Regions from separate parts of the Homo sapiens genome. Here region 1 is linked to region 2. The links come from fine-mapping of genetic effects on gene expression. Tissue or cell type: whole blood. Region 2 holds a variant in brackets; the other region holds the start of a gene. All regions are shown on one strand. Distances are from middle to middle.

What was found. PIP is the estimated chance that this variant, and not a neighbour inherited with it, causes the effect.
Region 1: ETS1 starts here. The variant in region 2 is fine-mapped to the expression of ETS1 in whole blood (TOPMed, PIP 0.93).

What each region holds. Positions count from the first base shown.
Region 1 is chr11:128,585,489-128,589,640 of GRCh38, forward strand. It overlaps ETS1 (ETS proto-oncogene 1, transcription factor), which reads right to left and starts at 2,070. Exons shown (of 10, transcript NM_001143820.2): 1 at 2,000-2,070. LOC105369565 (a long non-coding RNA gene) reads left to right here. Exons shown (of 5, transcript XR_948163.3): 4 at 852-1,472; 5 at 3,533-4,152. RefSeq lists a silencer at 2,023-2,229.
Region 2 is chr11:128,513,224-128,517,544 of GRCh38, forward strand. All of the region lies in intron 3 of ETS1 (ETS proto-oncogene 1, transcription factor), which reads right to left. Among named protein-coding and RNA genes, the nearest start is that of MIR6090, 7.0 kb to the right of the region's middle. The variant G/A (reference allele first, on the strand shown) is at 2,051.

The DNA of each region.
Region 1 (4,152 bases), 72 kb after region 2:
TCACAAGGTACATCAGAACCTCAGTTATCAGTAAGAAATTCACCAGTGCAATCAAAGAGAGAAATCTGTTGATTATTTGTTTGCAGTGTTTTGCCTTCTGCCTCACCCTCCCCTAGGTGAGAGGACCTGCACCCACACACCCAGTTTGTTGAAGTATTACTTCAGACAGTCCTTGACCTCACTGGCACTCTGATTTTTCATAGCCCTATGCTGTTTACTTCTATTCTCTCATATTTGTAAACCAGGCGGGGCGCAAATGATTGCTCACCTTTTAGAGATGAAGGGAAGAAGGCACAGACACGTTCAATCCCTGTTCTCTGTTACAAAGCTAATCACTGACATAATCCAAGTGCACAGCCACTTTCCCTTCTCCGACCCAGCGCTGGTTCAAGTTCTGACCCCACTTGCCTTTGAACTCCATTATCGTCCGGGACCGGCCACTGGCCCAAGTCGGTGCTCTGGCCACAGACTGCCAGATGCCAAAGGATCCCACCCCTCTACCAGCTTCCCCCAGGCTCTGCCTCAGGACATCCTTTCACAGCCAGCAACTAGCACCTCCGTGTAAGGAGCCTGCCGGGCAAAGATGCCCCCTCCATAATTAGGCTCTCGGCTTGGCTTCCCACATCCTCAGCAGCGGAACCAGGACGGAAGAGGCTGCATGGATGCCTGAACTGTTTGTTATTTCACTATTGAGTTGGCAAGGATGGAAGTAGTTGATTTACAATTAGAAGCAGCATGCTTCTTCAAATATTAATATTAATAACTGCACTACTGAACACATGAAAAGACCTTTTCATCTTCAAAGCACTTTGCAGACATTAACCCATTAGCTCTCCCTTCCCTCCATTCAGGAACAACAGGTGAGCAAGACTCTCAACAGCAGCAGTGGCCACCCTGCAGCCCTTGTGCACAGCCCACGGCCCCTGAAGAAAAAGCGTTTTCTCTTTGGATAAAAATAGGCCACCAAACCCAAAACCACAACTGATGAAAGAGTTATAGTATCAGTAATTTTACAAATCAAATGGAGCTGATGGAGTTATCATTTTAGAATTGGTATTTCCTGCTGTTTAACAAATACTTTTTTCTCAGTTGCATGGCAGTGGTCTAAAGTAAGAAGGAAAATGGACTTGAGATTAAAAACAAAAACTTACCCAAAAGGTGATAAAGAAATCCTGCAATAGAATGCATTGATTTCAGTGACCCAGCACCCTTTTAAGTTTGCCTGAAGAAAATACTACTTTAAAAGTTGGTAACAGAGACCTTTAACGGTGGGTGAGGAGTCACATACAAAGTGTCACGGCCAGATAAAATCACCGGATGCAGAGGAATTGCCATCGACATCTCCTGCCACTGAGTCCAGCTCTACCGTGGGGACAAGAAATACCTCCCTAACTCTGAGACAACCGCGGCCCACACCCACACCATGTCTCAACAACAGACTTAGGAACTTGTAGATCTTTGGACAACTGCAGGTCAGTCCCAAGACAGAGAAAAACACCAAACAGGCTAGTTTGGCTAGCAAGATTCAAACCTGTAGCAATTTCCTCTCTATTAAAAGCAATTCATTAAACTACTAGCAGGAGAAAAAAGTAAAACAATAGATTTACTAGGAGTGAAAGAGAATAAAAAGAAATTTATATATTTAACTACAGCTTTATTTCTTTGGAAGTGCTCCAATTTGCAAAAAAAAAAAAAAAAAATCAGGGTTTCTGACAAGTAATCTACGGGTATCTAAAACGTGCATGGTTTTACTTTTGTGAAGCAGGGAACATTTTTAAAAACATAGTCTTGCTTTCAGACTATTCTGACGAGGTTAGGAAGTATTTTTGAAAATTGTTAAACAATTAAATGGGAATATAGAAAGACGTGAAAAGAGAAAGAGAAAACTCACTTGTATCCTGAATCTCCCTACCGACTTACTCTTTAATTCCACAGAAATTTTTTTAAAGCAGGAAAAGGAAAATGGACTGAAAAGTTTTAGGCAGAAACTGACACACACCTCACTTACTACTTTGCCGGAGAGCAGATCCTGAGTGAGCTTCCCTCAAAGTCTGTGGTCTCTTTCCAACTACCTGCGGGAATCCTCTGCTCCGTAGCTTAAGAGGATGCAAAGACCATAATGTTTCTAATAGAGCTGCCTCCTTAAATTGGGGGGTGTGGTCAAGCCAGGGAAAGCTGGAAAAAAGGCAGTCTTCCTCTTGCCCCTGGCACCAGGACAGCAGCCACTGGCACAGGCACAGCAGTCTAGGTGGAAAGCACTGTTGATTGACAGTGGTGGCACCAAATCACACATTATTTCGTATTCTTCAAATTGTGCTTCAGCTGAATATAACTCAGCCTTGGAGAGTAACAGGGAGGGAGATGAGCAAAAGGGAACTAGTTCAGTGGGATAACACTGTATCTCACCTCATCATTTGCTGATGCATTTACTCTCTGCTGAATATGTAAATATTCATGCTTCATGTTCCTTGACTTTCTCAATGGAGCCCCCATTAACCTAGGCAAGGTCTCAGGTGAGGGAAAGGGATTGCTTTAGAAACACAGGACGTCCACCACCCAGTCACCTGCTCAGGCTTCCCGTTTCTCTCTAATAACTTGATATGAAATGTGATATTTTCTAAAGAAAAGAAAATAATTTTGTGGAAGAGAGCTGACTGGATATGGACTTGGGATTTCTGAAAAGTAAAGCTAAAAATCCCCTTTTCATATAAGTCTGGTTTTAGGCAATCTCTAAAATAAGGATACTTTTAGCAGCCCTGACTCATGGTCCGTGGTGCAGGAATAAAAGGGCAGAAGTGTTCATACATTTCTCATTTAGGGAAAATGTAAACAATATGAAAATCTTACATCTGTCCTAAGTGAAAATACACAGCATCTTTTATTCACATATTCAGGACTATGGTAAGAATGTTACAGCATAATCTCATTTCTATGAATGGAGTTATTACAATTTTTTTTGAGAAGTCAGTATTTGGCTGCTTAATCTAAGACTTTTATCCTAAAAGATTCCATCTTCTTTGAGTAGGAGGTGGGAGTTAAGATTTGTCATAGTTGGCTTCTTTCTCTTTTTAATAAAGATACAAACTTAGAAAATCCTTGAAAATCTAATAACTGTCATTTGGAGCCATATCATCATCAGCCTTCATTGTATAAAGCTGGCAATGCAGTTAAGATGACATTGTAAGTAAAGCAAGATTTTACTGCTCATCTTCTGCCTTTGCACATTAACTTGGAAGTAAGGAAGAGGTAATGCTATTGGTTCACTTTAGTTTAATAAATTGCCTGTGCCAGGCACTGTTCTAGGCACTAGAAAGATAGCAAGTTTGCATTGTAGTGAGGAGACAGACACATAAATCAACGATCTCCCCCCAAAAATGTAATACATGCTACAAAAGAAGTCTATGAAGAGAGCTAGGGAAGCTTCAGCCTGCCCCTGTAACCCAGTCAATTTCAGCACACTGCCCCATTTAAAGAGCCCACGGTCAATTATACCAATCATAACTAATTACAACTGTATTCACTATGTTTGCAGGATAATTGAAAAAAACAAAGTTGAGAAGACTTGGATTCTTGCTCTATAAGGGTGTACAGTGTGGCTGTCAAGGGGTTCTGAAGTCTGGAGTTGTCTATGCTGAGTTTATATAGAAAGCAACTCTTCAGGACCTTAGCTCCCTCCTCTGACACGGCCTTTTACGGTGTGGAAGAACATAAACTAGAAATCTTAATAGTGCAAAATAAGCCACCACTGTCATAAATTGCCTAGAGAATGCCCAGGAAAACAGTAAGTTTTGTTTTAAACAGTATTTTCAAAAATATAACATTAGATGGGTATCCACATATAAGAGCATGACATTGGACTCCTACCTTACACCATACTCAAAAATTAACAAAAATCTATCAAAGATCTGAACATAAGAATGAAAATTATAAAATTCTTAGAAAAAATCAAAGAAGAAAACTTCATGACATTGGATTTAGCAATGATTTCCTGGGATATGACAGCTTATCCCAGGAAAAAAAACTTGGGCAACAAAAGAAAAAATAGATAAGTTGGACTTTATCAAAGTTTTAAAATGTTGTACATCAAGGGGCACTATTAAGACAGTGAAAGGGAAGTCCACAGAATGAGAAAAAAAATTGCAAATCACATAT
Region 2 (4,321 bases):
GTTGCCTACCTCTTGAATGGCAGTCTACACTCTCTCCAAGCCTTGGCTGTTTTAAATGTTACCTAAAGTCATAAGATGTCACTGTTAGGAGAAATCTGACAGGTCGTCATTCCAATGAATTTATTTGACTGATGAAGAAAATGAGGTGCATAAAAATGCAATGACTTGCCTAAGGTCACACAGACAGATACTGATGCAGAGCTGTGGCTGGAGACCAACACTCCCGACTCTCCAGCCCACATTCTCCTCACAGAGTGGATGCTGTTTATTTCATACACAATATTTATTCCTACTGGTAAGGAACAAATACGGTAAGGTCTTCCTTATCATCTGTGATTCTTCATTGCATTCTGTGCATTTATTTCGTGTCTTAATGATGTGAGACAACTGATGCATAAGGTATGGAATTAACTTAAATTTTTGGCAAAAGATATCAAATAGGAGAAATGTGTAGGTACTAGAAGTACAAAAGTCGGTTACATGGAAACTCTTTCACTGAAAATTTCCTGTGATAAATTTCTTAAAGGGTATTTCAAAATCAGACTTGGGCAGGGGCAGTGGCTCATGCCCGTAATCCCAACATTTTAGGAGGCCAAGGTGGAAAGATTGTTTGAAGCCAAGAGTTTAAGACCAGCCTGGGCAACATAGCGAGACCTCATTTCTACAAAAAAGAAAAAGAAAATCAGACTCAACAACACATTTTTATTCTGAACATGAATGATACTAATGCATCACACAACTCTAAACGCATCACACAACTCTAATTGCACACAAAAAAAGTAATTAATTGAGAACAGGTATAACACCTGGCACATAGTGGGAGACCCTAGATACTTCAAAAAACCCGTATCTACAAACACTCACCAGGCTTAGCAGATTCCTGTGCCTGACCGAGGTTATTTTCCATTTGTACCTTGAAAATATGTACCTGATTGATTTTGTCATCTTCTCTGAGGTTTAACGCTTATTCTGATAAACTGATACAGAGGTTTTAACAACAGTATGAGTAGGAGGAAAAGTAACCAAAAAAAAAAAGTTACCTATCTCATAAGCTTACTCAATAACTCTGCTCTACCCTTAAATATTCCTACTTTCAAAGGCAAAATTCATCCTGAGGTTCAAAACGCTCTTTGGGTCCTGGCCTCCTACTTCCTTCCTTCATCCCTTTCTACAAGTAAGTTTTTTTTCCTTCATGTTTATCTAAGCATCTCTTTCATTCCAAACTTGCAGCATTCTTCCCACGCTGCTCTCTATATGGAAAATAATCCTTTCCCTGTTCTTACACCTCCTTCAAATGCTTCAGAAGTGCCCCTGTTTCCCATGAAGCTGACCTATGAAACTAACTTAACACTGTTGCAAGAGAGAGCTTCACAGACACAGAAAATACCAACAGTCATTGATCCACACATATTTTCATAAATGTAAACACTGGTCCTCCTGCATTTTTTGCCATGGAAGCACCTGGAACCCAGGGAAGACTTCATCTGAGTTGTCCTGACCACCCATCTACCCATGAGGGATTTAAAGTATTCAGAAATGACCACAGGCAAGGAGTAGAAACAACAGACCCAAAACTGCCCATGGGGCCACCTGAGCCTGGAATTCCTAACCAGGTGTAATGCTTGGCCCAGATGAAAGCTTTTCCAAGAATCTATGTAATATCACTTAAATTCGTTCATCTTTAGTTTTACAATTTCCTTTCATTCATTCTTTCATACTTTCTTACTCTTCCTGTCCTCATTCTTATTCTTGTCTTTTTTTAATTCAAAAAGAATTTTGCAATTGAATCCACCATTCCTTTCCTCCCCTTCTAAAGAATTGAGGGCTTGTTTTTTATTTTTGCTTTTGTTTTTGCCCACTTTAATGGTACAAAAAGAAAACACAACATTTTTTTTGCCCCTTTTCAGCCCAAAGTAAAATTTCTTATCTTCGATAAACATTTAAACAAAACAAAACAAAAATTGCAATTGTCTTCACTTGTGTAATGAAGACACGTCCCTCTACTTCAAAGTTCATTTTATCTCTCTGTCACACACACACACACACACAC[G/A]CGCGCGTGCACACTACATGCAGAGTTTACAGTTTCTCCACAGAACCTTGCAAAGCAAAAATAAATGGCTTATCACAGCTACCCAAAGCTACCAAGAGGTTTCAAATGCTTGAAGTGAACTTGTCTGAGGTTGATTTGGGTTTCTCAGACACTGAGAAACAAATTTAAAATATAATCCATGTTTGGGGGAAAACCATACTAAACTTAAAGGGCTTCAAACTCTTAATCGTGCCTTATTAGCTTACTTAGATGGTCTAAACCCTGAAATTGGCAATTGAGAGAAGATATTCTAGAAAGTACGATTGACCAAATTTAGTGTCTAACTCGGGTGGCCCTCATCTGTGGGGAGAGCCCCAGTTAATGTCTGTCATTCTGATGCAATTATTAATAGTGCCCCTTTACACTCTCAAAGGTATCCCAGTTTGGGTGGTAAATTATACGATTTTCTATCTCTACACCATTATGATCTGAAGTCCAACAGCCTTAAAATTTCTAATATTACTTTGGGTCTAAAAGCACTATCTGGGTCAATATTCCACAACTCTTAGAGACAGTACTAAATGCTACAAGAAAGAACAATTGAGAAAAGTGGAAGGGGCAGTAATAAGCCACATTTGAAGTGTCAAGTGACAGGCTTGCACCCAAGCAGTAGACACTGGAAAGCACCTGGGAAATATGACAGCGTTGGCCAAGTGATCAATAAAATATTTACGGCTTGAATAGCAATATTTTGAGCGTGTCTGTTAAGCATGGCTCTCTGCCAATGAAACCAGACCTACCACAATCCACCCTGCAGACCTATGTCTTTCTGTATCTGCATGGAGATTATACATTATACAATCAGAAGGAAAAGGGGGTGCAGATAGGCGAAGGCTTCAGAAAAGCAGCCAAGTAGAAATAGCCTGTTTATGCAATTTGGAAAACATCCACTGAAGTTTTGAAAAAGATATCATCAACCCGACAGAAAAAATAAAGCAGAAAGTAGCTAGAGACACATGACAAGTAAAAATGATAGATTTGGGAATAGCCTTGACATTCCTAACCCTGAGTTAAGAACAGCTTAACAGCTGTGAGCGAAGGGTAGACCTAGAATACTGCAAACATAGAGGCAAATGCTATCAGAGGTTCCTTGTGAGCAGGAAAATGGAGCCAAGGTTTTCATTAAGGAGCAGCTAAATAAAAACACGGAGATGATGTTGTTCATATACAAATTCCTCTCTGCGGTGACAGTGTGGGCCCAAGCATACTAACTCTTCGGGAAAATGCTCCCCATAATGCAGTAATAAAGAAACCAATGCCTTAACCTTAAACAAGTGGCAGGGGAGTGTGCCTGTGTGTGAGCCATGGGCTGGGACAGCTGGCAGGTCTGCAGGTAGACACCTGGGGCTGTCTTGTGCCAGGACAACTCCAGACCATGTGCCCTGACACATGGAATGGACTTTTTTAAAAAAAACTAAATTTTAGGGGAAAAAACGAAATTTATATGAGGCATAGGCAGCAAATGCAACTCAACTATCTATGGCCTCTCTGCAAGCAGGATAATTAAATTTTAACTGCCTTAAGAAAATGAACTAGTTTGCCAAGCTATGTCTCATCATCCTGATTATGAGAGATTCAATGCACAGCAACATCAGTGATGAAGGGGAAGAAATGGGCAGAATCTGGAGGCTCAGCGAAGGACTGACCTTGGAGGTGAACATAATCACCTTCCTACCTGTGAGAGAGCCAAGGCCATATGGAAGACGTTGCAAAAACAAGAATCCTGGTTCTCTGCCTTTCATTCTGAGGTAAGCATTGCTGGAACTTTCAAACATCTTTCTAAAGCAACACATCTGGACTGCCAGGCCTGGGGACAACCCACAGGATGGACCCTTTCCCCAAGCCGTATGAAGCACTGAGCTAACAATGAGGCCACCTGATTCAGCTCAGGGGGCTCTTGCAGAGATAGCAGGGAGCCACTGTACCTCCTGAACCCCCAAAGCACCGACCAGCATTGCCTTCTCACCTGCCTGTGTTCTAATTTCCAGAGTTTTTGAGAATAACTCAAAATTTTAGGTATAAAATGCCTACAACATCTCATCAGTTTCTAAATTTCTAGAGTGTGGCCTTAGGCCAAGTATGCATCTCTCAGAAACTCATTTTCCTCATCTGAAAAATGGAGAAAATAATACTTCCACCACACCTCAGAGTAAGTGTGAAGCATAAAAGTGCTCTTTTATCTGGCTGTGCCCAGCACACAATGCAGGCTCGATGTGTGCTTCAGAAATATCC